3 separate regions of the Homo sapiens genome follow, and regions 2 and 3 are each reported to be linked to region 1. The links are microRNA targets in miRTarBase. Many come from high-throughput screens and were not tested one by one. Region 1 holds a microRNA gene; each other region holds the end of a gene's coding sequence.

Region 1 (3,262 bases):
GACACCAGCACATTTTGTATCTGGTGAGGGGCTGCTTCCTGATTCAAACATGGCCATCTTTTCATGTATCCTCATATGGGGTAAGGGGTCGGGGATCTCTCTGTGGTCTCTTTTATAAGGGCACTAATCTCATTTATGAGGGCTCCCAAAGACTCTCCATCCTAATATCATTATCACCTTGGGGATTCGAATTTCAACATATAAATTTTGGAGAAAAACATTCAGTCCATTGCAGTTTCTAAAACTGAAGATGAAGATGCCTTTTCAGTTTTCATCAAATACAAATGGGATTTTTTTTTAGAAACAGGAATAATCAATCAACAAATCACTAAATGACTAACAGATATATCTGGATCATGTGACTAAGCAAAATGAGACTGGTTAAAATCACTCATTTCACCTGTGGGTATTCATTATAGTTCCCATTTTAAAATGTGAACATGTAAGTAAATTTCAAAGGTCATACATCTAGTAACGAAACAGGAAAAGTTCCCTTGTCCCCTCGCCAGGCATGCGATGCGGGTGTGGCTTGCTACTTCAGTGCCCCGCTCCTCAAACCTCTAGGGGAGCATACAGATGGGCAGGCTGTGGGGCTCCGCCCCCAGGGCTGAGTCTAGGGGTGAAAGTTTACAGCTCCTGAAGCCCCAGTGGGGTGTGTTACAGAGTGCTCTTTTAGTTTGTGGTCTATAGGCGACTTATGTCAGCTCAATTAGACCCTCTACCTTGTCACAAGGACAGAGGGCTTTCTGTATCCCAGGGTTTCTTGCCTTGGTGTACTGGAAGAATTGGTTCACATGTGGGCTTGAAGAATGAGTGCAAGGTTTTACTGAGTGGAAGTAGCTCTCTGCACATGGGGGAGCCAGAAAGGAGATGGTTTTCCCCTGGAGTTGTGCCACTCAGAGGCGCGGGCTCTCCCGGGCTCTCCTCCAACCACCCCAGCCAAACTCCACGTTGTTCTGCTGGTCAGTAGCCTGCCAGCATGCGGGTGCTGGTGCATCCCTCTGAACATCCTGTGCCTGTGTGTTCCTCTGCTGATGTGCTCCTCTCAATGTCCAGCTGCTTCTTCTCTGCCTTGCTAGGGTCTTGGTTTTTATACACACAGGATGAGGGCATGGTGGGCCAGGGTGGTCTTTGGAAATACAACATTTGGGCATGAAGGCAGGAGTGCCTGTCCTTACCTAGGTCCGTGGGGGTGGAGCCCCAGCCAGGGACCACGCCCTTCCTCTACCTAGCACTTTCCTTCACCCCTTCCATATCATTTAAAGGAGCCACGCTCCTCCCTTCCCAGCACTTCCATATCAGTAAGATGGAGTTTGAGTTTAACTTTTTGACTCCAAAAATGTTCATTTGTTTTCTGAACAAGCGATGCTATTGATGACATTGACAAAGGTTAGGGTTACAGTGAAACAAAACTGATTGATTGATTAGATAGAATAGAAAAAAACATATATATTATTCTAAGCTTTTCCTGCCATCATCTTTTCTGGGGAAAAAAAAGAAATAATATAGTTAGTTATAAAAAAGATCCATGGTTCAGCAGATGCTGGTCATATGTCTTAATTTTGTCACTGCCTTTCAAAATAGAGACACAAAGGGCATAATACTTTCAGACTTCAGTTTCCTCATATATAAAATTGCAGAGATTGATCAAAACTATTTTGATAGAAACTATTTTGATCAATCTCTACATTTCATATATTTTAGGCCAGTTAAACTCTAAGACATTTTTAAATAGTTGTAAAATAGTTATAAATAGAAGAGATACAGAAAGGAAAGGAGAAAGGACTAGTGTAATATTTTTCCAAAATACAGCCAGGCAAGAAATTTTAGACTACCAATGACTCTCTTCCAATATCTTTTTCTTTGTACAAAATATACTTCAAAAAAGCAGATGATGACCCCAGTGTGAGGGAAAGAGATTTAACACCTGTTTCACTCATTTTTGTGTCTTATTATATCACCTTGTGTAGAAATGAGCATAACTGATCATTTTCATTAGGTATTGTAAAATAATAAGGGCTTGCAATTAAAGATATGTACTATAAGTTTTGTAACACATTTTAAAATTAGAGCCAATATAATCATAGAATTTTAAATACAGGATGTAAAATAAATGAACTGCTATATATTTCAACAGATACCTTTACTATCAAAACATGAATCTAAATCATCCGTAATGCTAATCTCTTTTCCAAAGTGTTAGAACAAAAATGCCTGTATTATAGTATCATAGTTAGTTGCTGTACTTTCAAAATATTACATGATTAACAGGTAAATTACATGGTATTGATAGTAACATTTCTTTTTTAAAAAAAATCTTTATTCAGTAATATTCAAGGTAACCAGTACCTGGGAGAATCTCTACTCAAAGAAGTTGTAGAAAGAAACCTGAAAATATTTCATGTCTGTTAGGTTATGAACATTTGCATTTGAAAATGAATATCCTAAAGATTTAAGACCAAAAACAAAACTAAATCAAACAAGTTTCCTTAAGCATCCCCATCAATGATTTTTCAAATGGTAATTAATAGCACCAACCAACATAATTCAGGATTGGAGAATCTATGACTCACAATAAAAGCCTCTTTGGGGTGCCTAGGTTAAGAGAACATACAATTATGTGCAACATGAACTTAAAAGGAGCAATTAGAATGAGTTGCTTTTGACACAGACAATCATTTCTGACATTGAAATCTCAAAACATTTCAGAATCACATATTAAGGGAATGTTCATTTAATTAAAGAAGAATCAGAAGATTCAGATATTTATATTGTGTCAGTTTCATTCACTTTGTAACTAGGGTTGGGAATAAAGCACAAAACTTTAAACTGGACATTCAGATGTCACTGCTAACCACAGACTTACATTCTTTTGCTATTTATACCATTTGTTTACTTTTTGCATTTCCTTAGCTTGGACAGGGACTTTCTGCTTCTAGTCAATTTCACTCTTATTTTTGGCTCATAAATAAATTTTCCAGTACTTCTGGAAAATGTTACATCTAACAATTTTTTTGCAAAGAGATGATGGAAACATTCCTATTGGGATTTAATAAACTGGATGGTGAGAGTTGTCACTACTATCCCAAGAGATACCCACAGTAACCAAAAACATGTTTCCCAATTGTCTCTACGAGGTTGACAGCAGTAATAAAGAATATCTCCTCTCCTTTACCTTATCAGCACTACCATGTGATACGACTATTCTATTCTTTACAACAAAGGGTCTCCAAGGTTAGCCTGGCAACAGCTCAAACATACT
Region 2 (3,262 bases), not on the chromosome of region 1:
CAAAAAATATGCTATACCCATTCATCTAAACTTAAAAAATTTCACTCACAATCTTAAATTGATCATTTTTTTTTTTTGAGAGGGGGTTTTGCCATGTTGGCCAGGCATGAGTCACCACGCCCAGCCCAGAACATTTTTTGAGACAGTCTCGCTCTGCCGCCCAGGCTGGAGTGCAGTGGCGCCTCAATGGTGTGATTACAGAATTGAGCCACCTTGCCCGCCCCAGAAAATGTTCTTAACAGAAGCTTTGAATTAGAGATGAGGTACAACGCACAAGGTCTGATACCTAAGCAATAAGGACTGATGAAAACCTGTTCAAATGTTTGAACACAAAATATTTAAAATTATAGCCAGGTGACACACAGTGACACACACCTTAATACTGGCACTTGTGGAGGCCAAGGCAGGCATATCACTTGAGCCTAGGAGTTCGAGACCAGCTTGGGAAACATGGAGACCCATCTCTACAAAATATATGAATAAAGTCCACCAGGTGTGGTGCTTGAGATATGATTGCACCACTGCACTCCAGCCTGGGCAAGACCGTCTTTTTGTTTTGAGATGGAGTTTCACTTGCAGCCCAGGATGGAGTGCAATGGTACAATCTGGGCTGACTGCAACCTCTGCCTCCTGGGTTCAAGCGATTCTCCTGCCTCAGCCTCCTGAGTAGCTGGGGTTACAGGCATGTACCACCACGCCTGGCTGATTTTTTTGGATTATTAGTAGAGACAGGGTTTCACCATGTTGGCCAGGCTAGTTTTGAACTCCTGATCTCAGGCGATCCTCCCGCCTCAGCCTCCCAAAGTGCTAGGATTACAGGCGTGAGCCACCGTGCCCGGCTTTTGAGACACTTGTCTACAGAAAAGTTCGTGGTGCAATCTTGGCTCACTGCATCCCCAATGGCCCAGGCTCAAGTGATCTTCCCACCTCAGCTTCCAGAGTAGTTGGGATTACAAGAACATGCCACCACACCCAGCTATTTTTTTGTCAAGATGGGGTTTCGCAGGCCGGGCGTGGTGACTCCTGCCTATAATCCCAGCTCTTTGGGAGGCCGAGGCAGGCTGGAGTCCGAGACCAGCCTAGCCAACATGGTGAAAACCCAGCTCTACTAAAAATAAAATTAGCTGGGTACGTGGAGTGCGCCTATAATCCCAGCTAGTCAGGAGGCTGAGGCAGGATAATCGATTGAACCTGGAGGGTGGAAGTTGCACTGGGCAACAGGGCAACACTCCGTCTCCAAAAAAAAAAAAAAAAAAAAAAAAAAGGGAGTTTCACCACATTGCCCAGGCTGGTCTCAAGCAATCTGCCCGCCTCAGTCTCCCAGAGTGCTGTGATTAAAGGCAGGTGGGAGCCACCGTGCCGGCCTGTATAATGCGTTTCAAGGCTGGGCAGTAAGCCAGTGAATCATTAATTCCCAAAACTGAAGTATAAATTTTTTGAAGAAAAACAAGTTTTTTTAAAATGTTTTCCCCCCTGAAGCTAAGAACTACACATCGTAATACATTATGCGTATCTATTATCGCACTTTCCATCAAGTTTTTGTCTCATGTTTGTCTCCCCTAGCCTGTGAGCTCTCTGAGCTCAGCAATCATCTGAAATATTAATCTTTGTATCACCAGCACTTTAACTGCCTGCAACACAGGTCCTGAATATCTGACAAAGAAACACTAAAATACATAGTGTTTCTACATTATGACAAATACAGAAGCTGTGAGGGAATGAAAACTGCCAAAATGCAGAAGTTCAAAGATTTAGGAGGACAACACATTTAGTTTTATTTCAATCAAATCACACAACACTTTCTTTTCCAACTGCTGCAAAGTGCATCTACAATATGCTATTACAGATCCACTTTTAAAAGGTTTCCTGTGACATTACAGCAAGCCTCTTTTTTCAAACAGAGGAATAATCCCAAATTCTTCCTCAAATAAACTCCATTCCAGTAAATGGTAAATACATAAAAATTACAGTAAGCCAGACACTTAAAAGGACAGCCAAGAAGTCTTCCAACAGTTTATTAGAAAGAATGTAGACATTTAAAAAAATCCCCACTGTCATGAACATAAATTGAGGTTTTCAGCCCGGGTATAAGCTGAATCAAAAAAAGGAAATAAAAAATCCAATAGTGTATTAAACATTTTTCACTCATTTGCCATACTGACAGTGCAAATACAAATCTGGACTAAATGTACAGACTCTCAAGCAACAATGTACAGCTTTCTTCGTCCTCCATGCTAAGAGATGTAAAAGCTTAAGGGTCAAACAATACCAATTGTATAGGCTTCAAAAACCATCTAAGTTAGGGCATTCTCTAGTTTTAGCTAAGATACACCTGGAACACTGACAAGTCATCACTTACATAGAATAATGTGAAGTAAATTTTTTGAAAAATAAATTTTAGTGGAACAATCCTGAAGGATAACACCAGAAGAATAGCAGGTTACCAGTAAGGTGTCAGCCAATTTGTTCCAGTCACTTTTGAATCCATGTTCTATAATCTAAAATTTATTCTCTTTCCCTAAGCTGAGAGCTTCCTATCATGTCAGTATCTATGTTATGAAGAAAAGGAGACTTAGGTGAGATGTTTTTATTTATCGCAACTGCTGCATTAATTGCCTAGGACCTCAACAGCTTCATGAAAGTCTGGGAAATGTTCATGCATAAGGTTATTGCCTTAGCTGACTTAAAATTGCCCCATACAATGGTACATATCAACCCTTAGTGAAGCCTTTTAAAAAACAAACAGGTTGAAAAATGGGTTAAAGTAGGCAAATACAGCATATCTGCCTTTAGAGCTATCAACTCAGGAATTCTCTCAATTATGAAATCTTGCAGAGAAGTTATTTTTCTTTCTCAAAATCCAGGTGATGACAATATTCCTTACTCCAGATCTGGCATTTCTGAAAGAATTTTTAAAAATATTAGTATATAGTACAAGTGAATAATCTACCAATTTTACTGTCTTAAAGGAAAAGCAACCAAAAATCGAAATACATAGTTGCCCAATGAATTAATAGGTTGTCTTGCTATCAAGTTATTCACATTTCTGCTTTGGTTATTTATTCAAGGTCATAAAGAAAAAATTACTTTACTTCCAAAGAAGTTAACATCTCTATTTTGAGTTTGTTTTTTGATGCAAAGTATCACTGTATAAACATACTTTTTATATACACTTACTTTCATCATCACTGTCTTGTGAATCCTGAAAGAGGGAAAATAAAGTTACCGAGCTGATCAAATATTCGTTTGCTAACTGAACAGT
Region 3 (3,234 bases), not on the chromosome of region 1:
ATTTCTGATGCAACTGGACACTGTACTAACTTCGGCTGAGGACCAAATCGTAGTAATTTGTGCCACCAGTAAACCAGAAGAAATAGATGAATCCCTTCGGAGGTACTTCATGAAACGACTTTTAATCCCACTTCCTGACAGCACAGCGAGGCACCAGATAATAGTACAACTGCTCTCACAGCACAATTACTGTCTCAATGACAAGGAGTTTGCACTGCTCGTCCAGCGCACAGAAGGCTTTTCTGGACTAGATGTGGCTCATTTGTGTCAGGAAGCAGTGGTGGGCCCCCTCCATGCCATGCCAGCCACAGACCTTTCAGCCATTATGCCCAGCCAGTTGAGGCCCGTTACATATCAAGACTTTGAAAATGCTTTCTGCAAGATTCAGCCTAGCATATCTCAAAAGGAGCTTGATATGTATGTTGAATGGAACAAAATGTTTGGTTGCAGTCAGTGATAACTTCTTTAGAAAAAAAAAATGTAATGAATGTTGGCACACACACATAAAACCTGCTACATAGGGAATAGAGCCCCTTTCCAGTAGAGTTTAAATTGCAAAGGGTACTGGGGAAGATGACGATTAAGTTGCATCTTTAGAGTCAGGGTAGATTTGGAGGAAAAGTGCATCAAATGAGAGCTTCTGATTTGAAAGCCCCAGATGACAGAAAGCATATGTGGATGCTCAGTTCTGTTCAAGCTAGACAACACTCACCAAGGAGCAAGGTGCAAGTGTGTTGATTTCAGAAGGACATGAACCTCGTGTGTTGATTCCATTCTGCTGTTCTCGAGATTTAGTTGCTGTCAAGTGCCTGGAGTGGTGCTTTATTTTTTGTTTGCCTCACAATTACATTGGTGGCATGTGCTAATATAAAGAGCTTTAACTTCAAACATTATTGGACTAAAGAGATGAACAGTTGTGTTATGACAGAAAACCAGATTTTTGCCATTTTAAGAGCAACAGTATTCCTCAATCCTGTCTGTTCTGCAGTATTAAGCTAAGAACAGGTAAAACAGGGTAACGGTAATCTGGACCTTAATTTCTGCAGTTCATTTCTTTTAATGTTCTTGTCTGCAAAAACTCAGGAAAGTGATTGTGATTTGTACAGTACCTCAAAGGAATGTGTTGAAAGCACTATGTACTGCTGAGAGTAATAGGATAGGCTTCAATGTTACTTTATATTAAAATGTATGTTTACCTCAACAATTGGAAAATAGCAAGGAAAATTACTTTGAATGTATCCAGAAAAATACTGAAGTGTGATACAACTGAATATTTACAGTTTAAAGTAGAAATGGAAGGATTTTTTTAAGTTCTTTTACTAATTATGGGGAATTAACCAGAGCAGAATAATTCTTTATGTCAATAACTGCAAGAGTTCTTAGTACATTGCTCCTTGATAATTAAGTGAAAATGTTCTTAAAAGGTACACTGGTTAATTGAAAGCTACTTATTCAGTTTGTGTTAGTGTCTAGACCTGTCAGCCACAAGACCTGTTTAGGACCCTGAAAGTCACAGTACCTAAAAACTATGACTGCCTTTTTATTGCATAGGTGGTAGTGGTGGTGATGGTGGTGGTAGTTTGCAAGTTATCTCTTAAAACTGCTGGGAATGGTGTCATTCTATTCACTAATCTAGCTTATAGACTTGCCGTGCTGTTTGATAGAATGCAGAGGATAGCAACCAAAACAAATACACAAATAAATAAAAACAAAAACCAACCAACAAACCAACTTACATACACATATATATATCCACAAAGAACCTCTCCATCTCCTCCCCTTCTTTTTGACTCCACTCTTGTCAGTGCAATTTTGCTTCTCATTTTGAAATCTGGGCTGTAGTGCTCCTGCTTTATTTCTACCTCAGTTTTGTTACATTTCTCTTGGAAAGTAAAGTAGAAAATTGGAAGTGGACACACACACTGCAATGTAGCTTGCCAAACATGTTACTTTGTTTTCTTCCATCTTTCACCGTAAATCTAGTTTCCAAAGACATCAGCATTTGTGCTTACTTCCACCTCAGTCTACCAGCCCCACCCCTACCCATGGCATAAGTGGCATTTTTCTTAATTTCCTATTTTTCTCCTGCTCTCTGTCAAGTTGTTCTTTGTATCCTTTAATGCTTTATGTGCAACCTTTCATTGATAGTGGGCTGATGTTTGGCAATGCTTCTGAACTGTCACAGAGCAGGCTGTAGCTTTCCACAGCCACTGCCCATGCATAAGCAGAACAGCCTGGCCTTTTGAATGTATTTTCCTGGGTTTTTTCCCCTTTTCTTTTTTTAGTTTAGAGATGCAGTAACAAAACTGTTGCAAAGCACTGGCATTTTATGTATTCAATAAATAAGTGATGTACATTTTTAAAAAAATTTAAATAAATGCAATGAGAAGCCCCAAGAAAGGCCTTTCTGTTTTTTTTTTCTTACAAAAATTTTTACCGATCTTATCCACAATATCCAATTCTCTGAAACACTTAACATAGAGAAAGCTCATGAGGGATTTCTTATCTCTGAAATTTTATGATGCTTGATCTTTACTCCCCTTTTTTTATTTTTTATGTTGCTAAAAACTGAGCAATTGAACCAGAATTTAATTTACTGTGACATTCTGTCAATTAAAGCTGTGCTTAAATATAAATATTCCATATTAAAAAGCAGTGCCTTTCATTAAGGATACAAAAAATAATACTTAAATACGCCCTCTGCTTTTCGCAAGTGAATAAATGCTACAATCGTGTTCTGGGTCTACCCTGTGCATCCCTTGTAAGGAAATTCTAATATCCACATTAACTTGTAGGTTCATATTGATCTCACTGACAAGTTTACTTTTGCACAGTGCTGACCTATTTTCTGACTTTTAGACATTATATTTCATTTCCGCCAACATGCTGTGTTCACTTGAAAGCGTCTGGCAAGTTTTGACAAACCCAGTCTTATTTAGACAACTTTGGAAAATCCAATATTGACCCACATTTTTTTGTGGCTAGTAAGATTTAATGCCAAATATATGACTGCACTATTGTGTTTTACACTCATTTATAAAACTGAAAATAAATTGAAGTCATACATCTTGGCTTTTAGCTTTAAGTGACTTAAAAATTAGAACTCTGAGTGACTTAAAAATTAATTTGAGATGCAAGTGGTCAAAAATCCATGTATTTAGACAGAAGCTGAAGTCGTATGTGATTTTCATTTAGCCTCACAAAATCCAAGATTTGATCTCTTAGGAAATTGGG

The links. The annotated mature microRNA hsa-miR-3668 reads AAUGUAGAGAUUGAUCAAAAU and lies in region 1 at 1,671-1,691, opposite strand. An mRNA with a match to its seed (bases 2 to 7 or 8) in the 3' UTR can be bound and repressed. Matches are read on the target gene's strand: a 7mer-m8 pairs with bases 2 to 8, a 7mer-A1 pairs with bases 2 to 7 and ends in A, and an 8mer does both.
Region 2: miRTarBase lists PTGES3 as a target of hsa-miR-3668. Seed matches in the 3' UTR shown: 7mer-m8 at 2,027-2,033.
Region 3: the mRNA of FIGN is a reported target of hsa-miR-3668. Seed matches in the 3' UTR shown: 7mer-A1 at 514-520.

The regions. Positions count from the first base shown.
Region 1 is chr6:140,203,689-140,206,950 of GRCh38, reverse strand. MIR3668 (microRNA 3668) reads right to left here and starts at 1,699; the gene lies at 1,625-1,699.
Region 2 is chr12:56,661,599-56,664,860 of GRCh38, forward strand. PTGES3 (prostaglandin E synthase 3) reads right to left here. Exons shown (of 8, transcript NM_006601.7): 7 at 3,178-3,202; 8 at 1,751-2,900. The coding sequence ends at 2,881. Among named protein-coding and RNA genes, the nearest start is that of ATP5F1B, 17 kb to the left of the region's middle. RefSeq lists a silencer at 185-234.
Region 3 is chr2:163,606,775-163,610,008 of GRCh38, reverse strand. FIGN (fidgetin, microtubule severing factor) reads left to right here. Exons shown (of 3, transcript NM_018086.4): 3 at 1-3,234. The coding sequence ends at 457. Among named protein-coding and RNA genes, the nearest start is that of FIGN, 130 kb to the left of the region's middle.